2 separate regions of the Homo sapiens genome follow, and region 2 is linked to region 1. The links come from fine-mapping of genetic effects on gene expression. Tissue or cell type: activated CD8 T cells. Region 1 holds a variant in brackets; the other region holds the start of a gene. All regions are shown on one strand. Distances are from middle to middle.

Region 1 (8,264 bases):
GAAATTGGGGATGGCCTGTGTCCTCAGTTTACATCTGGGATTAAATCTCAATGCTGGGTACATACAATTCATCACAATGCATGTAGAACTGCTTTATGATCCAGAAAATGTGAGGGAGTCTTATGACTTGGCTTTGTTCCCTTTCTGAACAACTCAGTCGTTTGTGGTCAGTGGCAATGAGCCCAGGCTATTGGGCAGGAGGTGTAGCTGAGCCCCAGGGCTTTGTGTCCTCCCTGGGGTTCAGGCAGACAGGTGCTCTGCAGCCCAGACACACGTGTCATCCATCAGAAACAGGAGACACAGGGCAAGGGGCCTCCTCCTTCGAAGGAGAGAAGGGGGGAAGGAAAGAGAGAAGGAGGGAGGGAGGAAGGGAGGAAGAGAGGAATGAAGGAAGAGGGAGCTGCAGCAGCATTCAGCCAGCAAATAGCCAAAATTCCCTTGGAGGAAGTGGAGACAGAATCTTGATAGAATAGAAACTCAGAAATCCTGGGATATTCAAGAAGAAAATAAAGATAATCAGTTATAGAGCCCGTTCAAATTATAGCTCTGAATATCACTTAACTTATCTGAGTTTCCATTTTCTGAACAATAAAACTAAGGGTAGCCTACCTCTATCAAAGGGACTTGTGAGAATTGAATGAGATAAAGTATAGGAAAGTACTTTTGTAAAGTTTAATATAACCGTACAAATATGTGAGAACGTTGAGAAAAGGCATACAGCCAAACCCAGTGGGTTTTGGGGGGGTTTCCTGCTAAGTACAAGCGTGCTGATAAAAGTCCAGAGGTCAGAGTGGGTAAGAAGCTGACCAGGAGTTAGAAGATAATTAATTTGTTTTACAAGAGGAAAGACCCAGGGCTAGGAATATAACACACAGGAAATACAAGTCTTGAGGCAGACAGATTTCCAGTTACAAGTGTGCTGTTCAGATATCTGTGAATAAATACTGTATAGAGGGTTGGGCTTCATGCACAAAGAGAAATGTGATGCCTGCAAATGTGAAAAACTGCAGTTATTCATCCCAGTGAAGAATGGCAGGAAGGGAGACAGTAATGGTCTTAAAGGGCATTGAGGATGGAGCCTTTTCTGAGCTTTACTGTGGGAAAGGGTTGATCATGATTTGATGGTCGTTTATGGCCTAGGCAGGCATGGAACGAGTACTAGCTTATTTAAGGGTCACAAAAAGTTATGCAAAACTCATTTTTCAGAGGAAGAAACTAAAGTTCTAGAAAGCTTAGGAATTGCCCAGCATCACATGGCTGAGAAAGCGGCAGAGCCAGGAGGTAAACTGGGATATGATGTGGTCTTTAGAAATAAATTGTAGAGGTCAAAATAGAACAAAGAGTGAGTTTTGGGAAGTAAAAGCTGGCCACGCTTCAGATATAATTTCACAAAAGGTGTAAGATGCCCATGTTCTACAGCCTTCATTTAATGTATGTCTACCATGTCTGAGTTTAAAAGGGGCTGAGAGCCAACACTCAGGTTTATTTCCATGCTGGCAATGAGCAACCTGTTCTTCCTGGGCTCTGTGAAAGGGCCTCTGGCCGGAGGACGTCATATATCTGGGTTCAGAAGCTCAGGAGGAAGCAGCCACTGACCTTGAATGTCCTACACCGAGAACTGAAGGGCATGAGCTCCCCAGACTACAGGGCCCCTGGCTAGGCATGCTGCCTCCAACCCAATCCAACAACGCAAGGGGACCGACTCTCACCCCGACCTGGGCACACCTGTCCTGGGGCACCGCACACTCCAAAGGCTGAAAAACAAAGCTGATTCACAGTCTGAACCAGAAGGGCCATGGAAAACAAGCAGGGAGTGAGTTGTTTGTTCTAAAAGAACAGACTTGAAAACTGGAGATAATGTAATAACAACAATAATAGTCATGATGCAAGTAACTACAATTATTCAATTCCTGCTATGTATTAAGTAATTCTATATGGTGTCTTAGCTATTATTATCTTCTTTAACCTGAAAACAACCTTCCCAGACAAGCCTTCTCATATTGTCTTTACATGAGGACATGCATTGAGGACACTGGGTCAGAGAATTTGAGCAACTTGCCCAGTGTTCAACAGTTAGTGTTTCTGAACTTAAGCTTGGTTCTTCCAAAGCCCATGGTTTTCACTGTGGCTATGTCATCTTTCTTACCCAAATTAAGAGTGAATAAAGGAGAGGGTTTGAGAGGGCACCCCATTGGGCAGCTTTTCTGCAAAGTGAGGTTTCAATCACTTTTCAGATCCTTAAATCTGTCTCAGGGCTTAAAGGACCCTTGAAGGGACTTCACTGTATAGCAGCCACTTGGACATCCGTCCCCACCTCAGCTGAAAATCAATAGTGCAGAAGAAATCTCCAGTTCCAAGGAAGCCCTTTCCATGTTGAACAGCCGTAACTCAGAAAGTCATTGATTTCAGTGAATGAATTCAGTTTCCCTGTTAGTCCCACCCTTGAATACCCTCTGTGTCCCATGGAGAGACAATGGATTGGTCACGTCTCAATTCCCATCAACTGGGAAGTCTGGGTGATGGAGGTGCTGACCCTTGTCCTCTCTCCAGTGTTATAAACAGGAGCATGAGATACAGAACCAGCTTAACGGGGGGTTAAATGGCAGCTCTTCCAATTACTAGCTGTGTGACCTTGGAAAAGCTACTTAAGCTCTTCAGTTCTCTTATCCATAAAAATGGAAATAAAATTTGCTCTGGGCAGCTGTTGTAAGTATTAAAAAATAATATATGTAAAGCAACTGACATAAAATAATATATGTAAAGCTTTGGAGTCAGAGAAACGTAAGTTCCAATCTATTCATGTGACACATATCAGTCCCATGAACTTGGACTAATGTAATTTCCCAAAGCCTCCATTTCCTCATCTGTAAAGTAAATGTTATAATAGCACCTACCTTGAAGGGTTGTTGTGAAGATTAAACGATACCCAAGGGCAGTGCTCCAGGCATGTTAACTTCAATAATAAAGTTAGAAATGACTATTACTATCGCTTAGATTCCATATATATATATATATATGTTCCTATGATCCAAAATCTTTGCTTCAGCCAGTGTAGACAATTGAACTCACTGCAGGAAATCAGGCATCTAGTAGGATGACCAACTGAGCTAGCACTGAGCTGAAAACGGTGGCATTGTGGCACTGTGGCTTGAGGTCTCTGCCCAAAGTCATGGCCTAAAGTTCCCTCCTGGGTGCTCATTTTATGTACCCACCACTTTTGCCCTAACTCATCATTGCTCAGCTTTATAGTTGGTAGTGAAAGAAGAAAGAAAGAAAGAAAGAAAGAAAGAAAGAAAGAAAGAAAGAAAGAAAGAAAGAAAGAAAGAAAGAAAGAAAGAGGAAAAGAGGGAGAGAAAGAGATGGAGAGAGGAAGGGAGGGAAGGAAAGGAAAAAGGATGGAAAGAAGGAGGGAAGGAAGGAAGGAAGGAAGGAAGGAAGGAAGGAAGGAAGGGAGGGAGGGAGGGAGGGAGGGAGGGAGGGAGGGAGGGAGGGAGGGAGGGAGAAATAGTTGGATTAGGAAGAATGTGCCCAAAATACACAGTTTAGTTATTCTTTTGAAAATTCAGATTGATGAATAACAACTTAAAATTGTGGGAGAACCTAATTGGTTCTCACATTTTATATTACTCTACAATTTACAGAATGATATGACAGTACTTGAACTAATAGG[G/T]TCCTCTCAGCAATAGTGAAATCAAAAGGATTATTGCCCTCATTCTAGTGAAGACACTGAAGTTCAGAGAGATTGAACGGTTTTCCCAGATCACACAGCTTCGAAGAGGCAAAATGGAACTAGAACTCCAGCCTCTGGCACCTGATCCAGTGTTTTTCCCACTGCCCCACTGAAGCACATTCCTAGTATAATCTCTTCTATGGTATTAGTTACATCTTAGTTTAAAAGTGGGCACAAGGTAGTCTCTCACCGGGATCTGAGTATCCAAATCTGGAGTCCAACCTCTTCCAAGTTGATGTCACAGGGCTGTCCATTCTATCTCATCCTCGTAAATTCCAGACTGTCCCCCATTTCAATCTTGACCCACGATTTGTCTTTGACAACATAGTCATCTCAGGGACTGGCCCAGAGAGTCGTGCCAGGTGGTATGATGGAGATTGTGACCCAGGTTACAAACAGGGCCGAGTGACGGGCAAGCCTATAATTGTATCCCACCTTCAATGACCCTTGCCAGTACCAGGCAACGCTGATAAACAAATGGCCCATCCCTTGGTACCTTGCCAGGGTAAGCTCACATTCTGGGAGTGTCTAGGGGAGTGTTGGGACACAAGAATTCCAAAGCAATGCGGGAAGCTGAAAAGGTTATGTTCATAAGCCAGGACCTAACTGGGATTTCAAATCATAGCTCCTTAATTAGCACATTGGTGCCATTTGAGTAACCTAAAGTGAAGTGGGAAAAAATAATTTCTCAATACTGCTTTAAATTCCATCATATTTCCATGACCTTCACAATGGTCCTGCCCAGGAGATACTATTATCAACATTTTTTACCCGAGTTCAAGGTCGAGATTAGAATCCATGTCTCTGGATTCCGAATGCCTTTTTATTTATTTATTTACTTATTTTTTCAGATGGAGTCTCACTCTGTCGCCAGGCTGGAGTGCAGTGGCGCAATCTCAGCTCACTGCAACTTCCACCTCCTGGGTTCAAGTGATTCTCCTGCCTCAGTCTCCTGAGTAGCTGGGACTACAGGTGCATGCCACCACGCCCAGCTGATTTTTGTATTTTTAGTAGAGATGGGGTTTCACCATGCTGGCCAGGATGTTCTTGATCTCTTGACCTCATGATCCATTCGCCTCGGCCTCAGTCCTGGGATTACAGGCGTGAGCCACCATGCCTGGCCTGGATTCAGGATGCTTTAAAATATCCTCTACCTTTTGGCCTGTGAGACATCTTCTGTTTAGCCTCCATGGTTACATTCCCATCTTCAGAAATGGAACTGAGCATCATTAATAGAGTACTTACAGATTTATATTTTAAATTTCAAGTCCTGATGATATATGTCAGATATTTATGATCGCTTAAAAACAACCAGTGCTAGGATACATTAGTTTGTGAAGGAGGTATTATCTGTAATCCTATTCTCATTTTGAAAAGTATGCCTAGGCAATGAATCCACACACACACACACACACACAGATATATATGTATTTTTATCCCCCAAGAGGTATCTCTGTCTCCTATTAACTTGCAAGACATGCCAATGAAATCTCCACTGCAAATCTGAAATGAGAAATTTGACCTAAGGTTGTTTTCATTGAAAATTTCTATATCATTAATTTTACAAGTGTCGCTGCCATGTTCCTGGAGGAAATTTATTATATTTCTCCTCTATTTTGTATCATGCTGAAACTCAGGATCAAAATGAACATGAGCAAAATTATGTGAGTCTATTCTTTTCTAGAAAATGTAACATCTTTAATGAGAGAAGAATGGATTGTATAAAAAGAAGTTGGCTAAGAAAAATATCCCTAAATGCTTACTTTTAAATACACCTTGGTTATAAATGAGAGGGTCCAGCAATCTTAAAAATCTATTCCAGCCCTGAAAGTCTGTAGTTTAAATGGAGTCCAAAATAAACAAATTTGGGCTATTTTAGAGGCTATTTAGGCCTCTACGCCTTTCTGCTTGCTCTTTTCTCTGCATGACTTCATTAGCATTATTCCTTCCCACTTTTCTGTATCTGGTGAACTCCTATTCACCCTTCAAACCCCCATTTGAATGTGATCTCTTCTGTGACCCTCCAACAGTTCACTGCCTTTATCCCCAGACTAAATGTGGGGAGCCAGTCCGTCATTTGAGTTTCTGTAGCATGTCTCACAAGACTCTTCTCTGGTACAGAGCATTCTGAATCTTGTCTATTTTTCTCACTACAACATGGGCTTCTCAATGCCAGGGGTCACAAACTACTCATTTTTATAAGTTTTCCCCCTTTTGTCACTGAGTACTTAGTGCAGTACTTGACACATGATAGGCAGGTAGTAAATGCAGGGTGAATGAATGAATGAACGAATGAATGTGAGTTTTAATTCTAAGTCTTTCAACTCAAAATCCATTACTCTTTCTAGTTTCCTAAACAACCCGAACTACAGAAATAGAAAAACCACATGCTTCCATTTTTTAAGAAATTCTTATTTATTTATTTTAGAGGCAGGGCCTCACTCTGTCACTTAGGCTGAAGTAGAGTGGTGTGATCATAGCTCATTGAAGCCTAGAACTCCTGAGTTCAAGTGATTCTCCTGCCTCAACCTGCTGAGTAGCTAGGACTGACTACAGGAGCATGCCACCACACCAGGGTAATTTTTTGGGGGGTGGGGTAGAGACAGGGGCCTCACTATGTTGCCCAGGCTGGTCTCAAACTCCTGGGCTAGTGATCCTCCTGCCTTGGCCTCCCAAAGTCCTGGGATTGTAAGTGTGAGCCACCATGCCCAGCCCAATGTTTCCTTTTTTAAAGTTCTTTTCTAAAATTTTACTGAATTAGCAGAAGATCCTACTTCTGTGAGAGGAAGGATAGGATGTTCCTGGCTAACCTCACAGTTTTTCTAAGCAGGAAAAGCTCTTTGGGGGAATATTTAGATAGAAACATTCCTTCTAGACCTAGTATCAGGTTCAGTGGTCTGTTTGCTATTTACTTTCTGTTTCTTAGCAAAAAACTGCCTTTGTTATGAGACTGTGAGATACAATCCGGACCAGTTGACCCAGGAGGGCTTAGTGTTAATCGCCAACTATTATAAGAAGGTGACTGGCTTCCCAGAAGGGAAAGTGAAGGTCACAAGCAGCCACTCAGAATGGCTGGATAGTGCTCCATGTCATGACACACTAGGCTTCTTAGAAACCAGAGGATCCCAGTGAAAATGCAGCTCCCCTGGGCAGCTGAATTTCAGAAGTTTCATTTAACATCAATGGCTTATTTTAGTTCTGCTTTGAGGAAACTGAAAACTTGGATTCATACTAAAAACATATGCAGATGAGGACAATTATTATTACTATTTTATTTATTTATTTATTTTTTGAGACGGAGTCTCGCTCTGTTGCCCAGGCTGGAGTGCAGTGGTACAATCTTGGTTCCCTGCAACCTCCGCCTCCTGGGTTCAAGTGATTCTCTTTCCTCAGCCTCTCAAGCAGCTGGGATTACAGGTGCCCACCACCACACCTGGCTAATTTTTGTTTAGGCCGGGCACGGTGGCTCAAGCCTGTAATTCCAGCACTTTGGAAGGCCAAGGCGGGCAGATCACTTGAGGTCAGGAGTTTGAGACCAGCCTGGCCAACATGGTGAAACCCCGTCTCTACTAAAAATACAGAGGACAATTATTTTTTTAAATAATTTTCTTTGGTTAATATCTCTTAAATGTAATCCTGTGGTGAGGAGACAATGACAGTCCTGGGGCTGTGGCTATTAGCAGCTCCTTGTAGCTGAATGTCTCCAATGGTGCAGGAGGACATGTCAGCACCATGGTCTGGCTCCTGTTGAGCACTGTGAACTCTGTGGGACCTTCCTGCACATCATGTCGTTTGATTTTCTAAAGGACACTAAAGCAGCAGGGAAAAGAATAACTGTATAGGTGGGAAAACAGGTATAAAGTTAAGCTATGTAGTTCATCCTGATATGAACAGCAGGTAGAGGGTAGCCCTGAAAGCAGAAAGCAAGTTTCCAACTACTGACCTAGTGTAGTGCCAATATATCTTATAGCCTAGGTGATTATATTCTTAAAAAGGAATGTATGGATATGAGGAATAACTTGGAATAGGAGATTTTATATATTATTAATATGCTTTTCTATCAGCAAGATAAGCTAAGATTTTGCTACCCAAAATGTAGTCCACTGCCAGCAGCATCAATATTGCCTGGAGTCTGTTAGAAATGCAGAATTTCCTGCCTCTCCCCAGATCTACCAAACCAGAATCTGCATTTAGCAAGGTCTAAGGTGATTTGAGAAGCTCTTAGCTAGACAAGAAGAAAATACCATCTTCACAGATGATTCCCAGTTCTGATGGGATAATTTTTTAAACTTGAGATGAAAAAAAAAACGATCTTTGTATATACTTTTATGTACATGAAATTAGCCTATTCATTCCTTCCGGGAGCCCTGTGAGATACATAGGAATAGATGTTACTGAAATTTAACAGGAGAAGAAACTGAGTTCCCAAGTGGTAAAGTGATTACCCAAAGCCATCTAAGTGTCTGAGCTTATTTAATGACTAGCACACAGTAGCTGTTTGCTAAATGAATGAATAAATGAAACACTAAAAAAA
Region 2 (8,000 bases), 670 kb after region 1:
GAAAAGCATTTAGTTCTATCTAATTTCAATATGCACGTGAATTAGTTCATGTTACTCTAACAATGTATTCTTACTGTCCTTTTTTATGAAATAGGAAAGTAAAACTGAAAGAACTATTTCTTGTGTTTTTAAAACTAGCCTTTTCTAATATTTGATATCTAATTAAAGTTAGATAATATGTAATATGCTTTTGAACAATAATCTAACCAGAAAATATTGTATAATAAATTACCAAGAAATCATTACATTAATTATAAAAGGAACATGTCAATACAACAAATGTTTATTTAACACCTACTGTTACTCCAAATACTGTGTTAGAATTTGACTATTCGAAGATGAATAATAGTCTTTGCCCTCTGGAAGGCCACAATGTAGAAGTAATTCTCTGTATCAGATATTTCCTTGAGTGTTAAGTGTATTAGTAATCATGTTGTAAATCCCAGTGTAAGTCAAGAAGCAATATCACCACCACCACCTCCCTATGATTTTGTGATAATTTGGCATTTTCAATGCTTGTTAACTTTCATGTTTTCATTTTTATGAAATCATGCAGAGCTTGTTATAATTTTTAGTGGGGTTTGGATTAAAATGCTTTTTTGATGTAGCAGAAGATACATTTTTTCCCATTTTACATTGTTTTCCTTAAATATTAAGAATAATGAGTAAAATAAACTGATTTTAAAATCACCAGGAGATGCTTCATTTATTAAGTGAAACATTCAGATTAAGGAATTTTTTTCATATAATTCACACAGTACCCAGGATATTTAGTTATTTTGTGTAAAATGAAGAGACTAGATTTTATCATTTTCAAACTTTTAAAAATTATTTTTAGCAAGAAAACTTTTTAAATCTTTTTGTTTTTGAGCCAGGTTCTCACTATATTGCCCAGGCTGGACTCAAACTTTTGGGCTCAAGTAATCCTCCTGCCTCAGCCAATGGAGTAGCTGGGACTGCAGGTGCACCATCAGCTTATTTGTGTTTTCATCTGTGATAATCGGAGGATTTAAAATTCTCCACTAATATACGTGAGGATAGAAATCAAAATGCCTAATGAGTGGAAAAAAACTCATCTTTAGTGTTGAAATGGCAAGCAACTTTCAAAAGCATTTCAACTACTATTACCTTCACATTAAAAAATTAACTGATTTTGCATATTTCTAAAACCACAAAGACATTTTCCCCACACACATTCAATCCTCCATGGTTCCAATGAAATAGATAAGAAGTTAACACTTTATATTGAGGTATAGTGTTGACCCTAAAAGATTGCAAAAGACTGATAGTAAACATGCAGCAAGAAAGCTTTTTTAAACAATATATTGCTGGGCACAGTGACTCACACCTGTAATCCCAGCACTTTGGGAGGCTAAGGTGGGAGGATCACCTGAGCCCAGGAGTTCTGAGGCCAGCCTGGGCAACAAAGTAAGACCTCATCTTTACAAAGAAATTAAAAATTAGCTGGGCATGGTGGCACACGCATGTGGTCCCAATATACATGGGAGGCTGAGGCAGGAGGATCACTTGAGCCAGGGAGGTCGAGGCTGCAGTGGGCCATGTTCACATCACTGCACCATGACCTGGGCAACAAAAATATATAAATGGGCTGGGCGCAGTGGCTTACGCCTGTAATCCCAACATTCTGGCAGGCTGAGGCGGGTGGATCACCTGAGGTCAAGAGTTCCAGACCAGCCTGGCCAACATAGTGAAATCCTGTCTCTACTAAAAATACAAAAAATTAGCTGGGTGTGGTGGTGGGCACCTGTAATCCCAGCTACTCGGGAGGCTTAGGCAGGAGAATCGCTTGAACCCGGGAGGCAGAGGTTGCAGTGAGCCAAGATCACACTATCGCACTCCAGCCTGGGAAGCAAGAGCAAAACTCTGTCTCAAAAAAAAAAAAAAAAAAAAAAAAAAAAAATATATATATATATATATATATATATATATATATATGTAAAATTTATTTTAATATTTATAAATGTTGCATTTATAAAATATATAAATAATATATATTACCTGGCATTCCTCCAACTCACAAAGGTACAGTTGCTCTAATTAAAGGGACTCCTGGTTAAGCCGTGGCTTTAAGAACAGTTTGAAAACCTTCTTGCTTTTAAAAGACATAAAACAGCAAGTAAAATGGAAGGACAGACAGACCTCTAGTTTGGTTTGACTGGAGCTGTATGCTTAACTAAGGAGCTGAAAAACAGAGGCGGAGGTTGCAGTGAGCCGAGATGGTGCTACTGCACTCCAGCCTGGGCGATGGAGTGAGAGTGACTCAAAAAAAAAAAAAAAAGAAAAAGAAAAAGAAAAACAATACCTATTAATAGCCTTTATTTGTGCGTGTTAGCAACAGTTTATAATGATGCTTCCACATGCTTTCAGTTAGGCCCTCCTTGTGAATGTGACCTTCACTTAGACGCCAACTTTGAAGGGAATCAATACTACGGCCTTGTTCTCATTAGGGCTGTACTAAAATAATTGAAACTGTCACACATCATCAAACTCAAAATTTTACAATACCTTGAATGACACTGTGCTTACAAAACTGACGGTGATGTGTAATGATGACTAATGTAAGTCACCATGAAGAATTTTTATGGGAAGTAAAAATTCAATTAAGATGGAAGTACCTACCCTTGCATTGTGCAAGGCAATGAAGATCTGAAGGAAGCCTGCCTTCAAGGGCTTGGATTTTGACAGCGGACAGGTACACAAATACAGCACCAGGTAAAATACGGCCTGTATTATCATTTATGGGTGGGTACAGAGGAGAAATTCTGACTTACGGAATGATTTCCTGGAGAAGAAATTACTATCTGGCTTCTTGTGAAACAAAGGCTCTACACTTTACCCTTGCCAACGTATAGTATGAAGGTCTTTAAGCTTAAAAAAAATCATTAATTAGAGGACCACTGGGCATCATCTAAGGCAAGTGTATGACTTTAGAGTCGGGAGAAATTTGCGCCTGAGCTAGAAATGCACTAGCCTACCATTATCACAAGAGCAAGTCAGTGACAGAACAGTTCTCTGACCGCCAGTGCAGTGCCCTCCCACTTGATCAATCAGTCATTAAGGCTCACTGGCAAGCCCTTCGTACTTCTTCCCTCTCCGGCACTAGCTTCCTTAAGTCGACTCTGTGAAATACCTGCTAATCTTATCCTGAACCAGAGTTTCGACCCTCGGAACAGTCTTGCCCACATCTTTGGGACCCGATTCGTCCTGCTGATTCCGGCACTCGAGGGGCGGGTTGGTTGGAACCCACCCCACCAGGCCCCTCTCAATCCCACACGGTGTCCACCCTTGCCCGCAGGACGGCGGCCCGGAAGTGACGTAGTGGAAGCGGAAGTGGTGTAGTGGTGCCGACTTCCTGTTGTTTGAGGCCGGGTTGGGGGTGTGCGATTGTGTGGGACGGTCTGGGGCAGCCCAGCAGCGGCTGACCCTCTGCCTGCGGGGAAGGGAGTCGCCAGGCGGCCGTCATGGCGGTGTCGGAGAGCCAGCTCAAGAAAATGGTGTCCAAGGTGAGGCTGCGACGCGCTCGCCTCCCAGGGCGCGCCCACCGCTCCCTTCCGCGCCCTGTCGAGTCCGTCCCGGCCCAGCCAAGCAAGCTTCCCAGACGGGCCGGAAGCCCCGGTGCAGTCCTTAGCGACCTCCTCAGAACCCCGCCCCGAGGCGCCTGTCGCCTGGTGCGGGAATCCCCGTACGGGAGCTGGGAGGGTGGGGGACGGCGACAGTCAACAAAGGCGTGGAGCGGAGGCTACCTGACACCTGCCGCCCACCCGCCCTCCTCTCTTCCACTGAGTTTGGAGCTGTCTGTGGGGCAGTGTAGTTTTTCGTTTGTTTTTATAAACACAAACAAGGGATCATACTTAGTTGTAGATCTGAGGCAATCCTCTACTCCTGTCCCAATCTAGGGATCCTCCAGTCTTAGCCTTTCTTTTGCCGACCCGCAGAGAGTGTGGCCTTTTCAGTTTTGTATTCTCCAGAAAAGAAGCGAAAATACCAGTCCCTTACTGCCCCAGGTGAAATACATACCATTACCATTTCAGGGATTTTCTAAGAGTAACTACTTTTAAGTGTATGCTTCTTATAACGCGTATTTATTTGCTTTGAGCTTAATTTATGATCTTCACGGCTCAAGACTAGTGTTTTTTTTTTCAATTTTTAAAAAAGCAGTTAAGCATTTTGTATTTTAAAGCCATGATTTATTTATATAATTACTTCAAACGTGGCACCTCACACCAGAGTGGAATGGCTTTTGTTATGTTTTGTTGTAATTTTCCAAAACTATGTAAAATGATTGAGAGTTGAGTCTTGACCAGTTCAACGTGTTAGCTTGGGATAGTTTTGTCAAAGCAAGAATGGTAGCAATCAGCGGTTTAAGCGGTTTCAATTTTTAATAAAACACACTATTATGTGTAAAACTTTTTTAAAAACAGACTTTTTCCAGTTAAATCGCCCCCATAGTTCTTGATTGAAGACCAAATAATCTCTAAGGAGAAAATGACAGCTTTCAAAATAAAGCATATATTGGTTGTGTAATCGTATATTTTAGGCTTCTTGGTTTTGTTTTGATAAACTTGTTATCCTTAGTTATAGAAGACATATGGGAAGCCATAGAAGATTGTGACCCAGGTAAAGATCCATGTTGTAACTTTTATATATCACTTTTTGAAAAAAACGGTATATTGTTTTACATAGTATGTAACTGAAGAGTATCTGTTCCATGACTCTTTTTTTTTTTTTTTTTTTTTTAGAGTCTTGCTCTGTCACCCAGGCTGGAGTGCAGTGGCACGATCTTGGCTCACTGCAATCTCCGCCTCCCAGGTTCAAGCGATTCTCCTGCCTTAGCCTCCCAAGTAGCTGGGGATTACAGGTGCCCACCACTTCACACAGCTGATTGTTGTATTTTTAGTAGAGACGGGATTTCACCATGTTGGCCAGGCTGGTCTTAAACTCCAGACCTCAGTGATCCACCGCTTTGGCTTCCCAAAATGATGGGAATACAGGCGTGAGCCACCACACCTGGCCTCCATGACATTTTTGATCTTTAAATTGATAGCATAGTCATTAAGATTTAGTCCTTGGGCTGGGCGCAGTGGCTTACGCCTGTAATCCTAGCACTTTGGGAGGCCAAGGCGGGTGGATCACCTGAGGTCACGAGTTCAAGACCAGCCTGATCAACATGGTGAAACCCCGTCTCCTAAAATACAAAAATTAGCCGGGCATGATGGCGGGTGCCTGTAATCCCAGCCTACTCGGGAGGCTGAGATGGGAGAATCGCTTGAACCTGGGAGACGGTGGTTGCAGTGAGTCGAGATCAGGCCACTGCACTCCAGCCTGGGTGGCTGAGCAAGACTCCATCTCAAAAAAAAAAAAAAAAAGATTTATTCCTTAATGTATGTATATTCATATAAAGAGCAAGAATATTCAAATATTAGCTTATTTTTTATACCCTAATTAAGTTTCCTAAGCTTCCCTAGAGAAACCTGCCATCAAAGACAAAGGCAAGGCATGTTCAGAAGATATTTTATACCTCTACCTGCCTTCCCCTCCACCCAACCTGTGATTACTTTAGAAACAAAAACAGAGGTAGGGAAGAGGTGGGAGAGGGCATCCTACCTGCCTTTTGGTCCTTGACTCAATATCTGGAAAATTGAGACTCCTGTATGTGATTATGACGATTCTGAGCATCAGCATTAGTACTGTCCAACCTATGAATTTTAGACAGGTAAGAATAGGAAGTAAAGTAATAGAAGCAGTTGTGGGGCTCCTTCCTCCTAAAGAAGGGCTTCAAATGTTTTCCTTTCAGCTGGTGTGGTCTGATGTAAGAATTGTTAGCCAGGACCCTGAACACATAGCTAGGGTGAAGGTCATTATTGTTTTCTCTTTATCTGATTGTAGGCTCTCCACACACATCATGGTACTCTGGCCACCTGCCTTATGTTTTATGTGTTTATTATAAAAGGTCTTTTTTTCCCTTGAGCATTATCTTAGCTCCCAACTTCAACATAACTTTCAACACCTTTCTCTGTTATTTTTGCAATTAACAGATATATTTATACCAGATTAGTCCTTCTTCTTTTACAGAAACAACTTCCCACTTTAGATGTTTCATACATACAGCCACTTATATTTTTACATAGTTTATCTACAGCATTTCTAGAGGCACAGTCACTGCTAAATGAGTAGAAGAAAACTGTGGGCCTGGTGTGGTGGCTCATGCCTGTAATCCCAATACTTTGGGAGGTAGAGATGGGAGAATCCACTTGAGGCCAGGAGTTCAGGATCAGCCTGGGCAACATAGCTAGACTCTGTCTCTACAGAAAATTTAAAAATCAGCCAGACTTCGTGGCTTGCACCTGTAGTCCTAGCTACTTGAGAAGCAGAAGCAGGAGGATCACTTAAGCCCAGGAGTTCAAGGTTACAGTGAGCTATGACAGAGAACCTGTCTCAAAAAGTAAAAAATAAACATTTTAAACTATAACAAAATTGGCCAGGTGCAATGGCTCATGCCTGTAATCTCAGCACTTTGGGAGGCTGAGGTGGGCGGATCACTTGAGGTCAGGAGTTTTGGACCAGACTGGCCAAGATGGTGAAACCCCATCTCTACTAAAAATACAAAATTAGCCAGACATGGTGGCGCACGCCTGTAATCCCAGCTACTCGGGAAGCTGAGAAAGGAGAATTGCCTGAACCTGGGAGGCAGAGGTTGCAGTGAGCTGAGATCACGCCACTGCACTCCAGCCTGGGTGACAAAGCGAGAATCCATCTCAAAAACAAATAAATAAATAAAAATAATAAAATAAAGATTGATATGTCCCTCACTGTTTTAGGTTCTAGGGATGCAACAGTGAACAATCAGACAAAGAAACTGTGCTTCTGGAATTTAAATTCTTATAGAAGGCAATAAACAACTCAATAAATACATCAAGAAGTACGTTGGAAAGTGATAAGTGCTTTAGAGAAAATAAAGCAGGGAAGAAATGGGGAATGCTAGGGTGTGGAAATGGGATGAGTCACCGTTTTATATCTGATAGTAAAGAGAGGTCTTTCTGAAAAAATCTACTTGAGCTCACCTGAGAGAGGTAAAGAAACTGTGTGCTTGACATGGGGCTTACACCTGAAATCCAAACATTTTGGGAGGCGGAAGCTAGAGGATCACATTGAGGCCAGGAGTTCCAGACCAGCCTGGGCAACATAGCATGACCTTGTCTCTTCTCTACTAAAAATATAAAAAAATTAGCCAGGCGTGGTGCATACCTCTAATCCCAGCTGGTTGGGAGGCTGAGATGGGAGGATCACTTGAGCCCAGGAGTTTGAGGTTGCAGTGAGCTGTGATCACACCACTGTACTCCAGCTTGGGTGACAGAGCAAGATCCTGTCAAGAAAAAAACAAACCTGGAACAATCTGGGGTAAGAACATTTCAGAAGGAAGGAAAAACAAATGCAAAGACTCATAGACAGAAGTTTGTCATGCATGATAGAGGAACAACAAAGGAGGGTATGGTGGCTAGACTGGAGTGAGCAAGGGAGGAAAGTGGTGGTATGGGTCTAGACAGCATCAATGGTATGGGAGGTTTGGAGGGCCTTGCAGGCCATTGTAAGGACCTTGGCATTTACTTGGAGTATGATGAAAAGCCGTTGCTGTGTTTCAGCTGTTAGCAATATTACTCTAGATGCTATGCTGAGACTAGACTGTAGGGGGTTAACGATGGAGGCAGAGACACGTAAGGAGGCTGTTGCAGTAATCTAGGTGAGAGGTGCTGGTGGCTTAGACCAGGACTGTAGCTGTGGAGATTCCGGATGTATTTTGAAGGCAAAGCTAACAGGATATTTTGACAGATTTGCTGTGGATGTGAAGAAAAGAGAGGGCATCAAGGATAATGTCATGGTTTTTGGCCTGAGCACCTGGAAGGATATGTATGTATACACATATGGAAGACACTGGAGAAGTAAATTTGGGGAGAAGATGAGGAGTTCAGTTTTGGTCATGT

The links. PIP is the estimated chance that this variant, and not a neighbour inherited with it, causes the effect.
Region 2: it holds the start of TSG101, and the variant in region 1 is fine-mapped to the expression of TSG101 in activated CD8 T cells (Schmiedel 2018, PIP 0.95).

Annotation. Positions count from the first base shown.
Region 1 is chr11:19,192,576-19,200,839 of GRCh38, reverse strand. All of the region lies in intron 1 of CSRP3 (cysteine and glycine rich protein 3), which reads left to right. CSRP3-AS1 (CSRP3 and E2F8 antisense RNA 1) reads right to left here and starts at 4,127. Exons shown (of 6, transcript NR_183675.1): 1 at 3,921-4,127. The variant G/T (reference allele first, on the strand shown) is at 3,671.
Region 2 is chr11:18,522,299-18,530,298 of GRCh38, reverse strand. TSG101 (tumor susceptibility 101) reads left to right here and starts at 3,357. Exons shown (of 10, transcript NM_006292.4): 1 at 3,357-3,524. The coding sequence starts at 3,483. It overlaps UEVLD (UEV and lactate/malate dehyrogenase domains), which reads left to right. Exons shown (of 12, transcript NM_001040697.4): 12 at 1-690. RefSeq lists an enhancer at 3,088-3,197.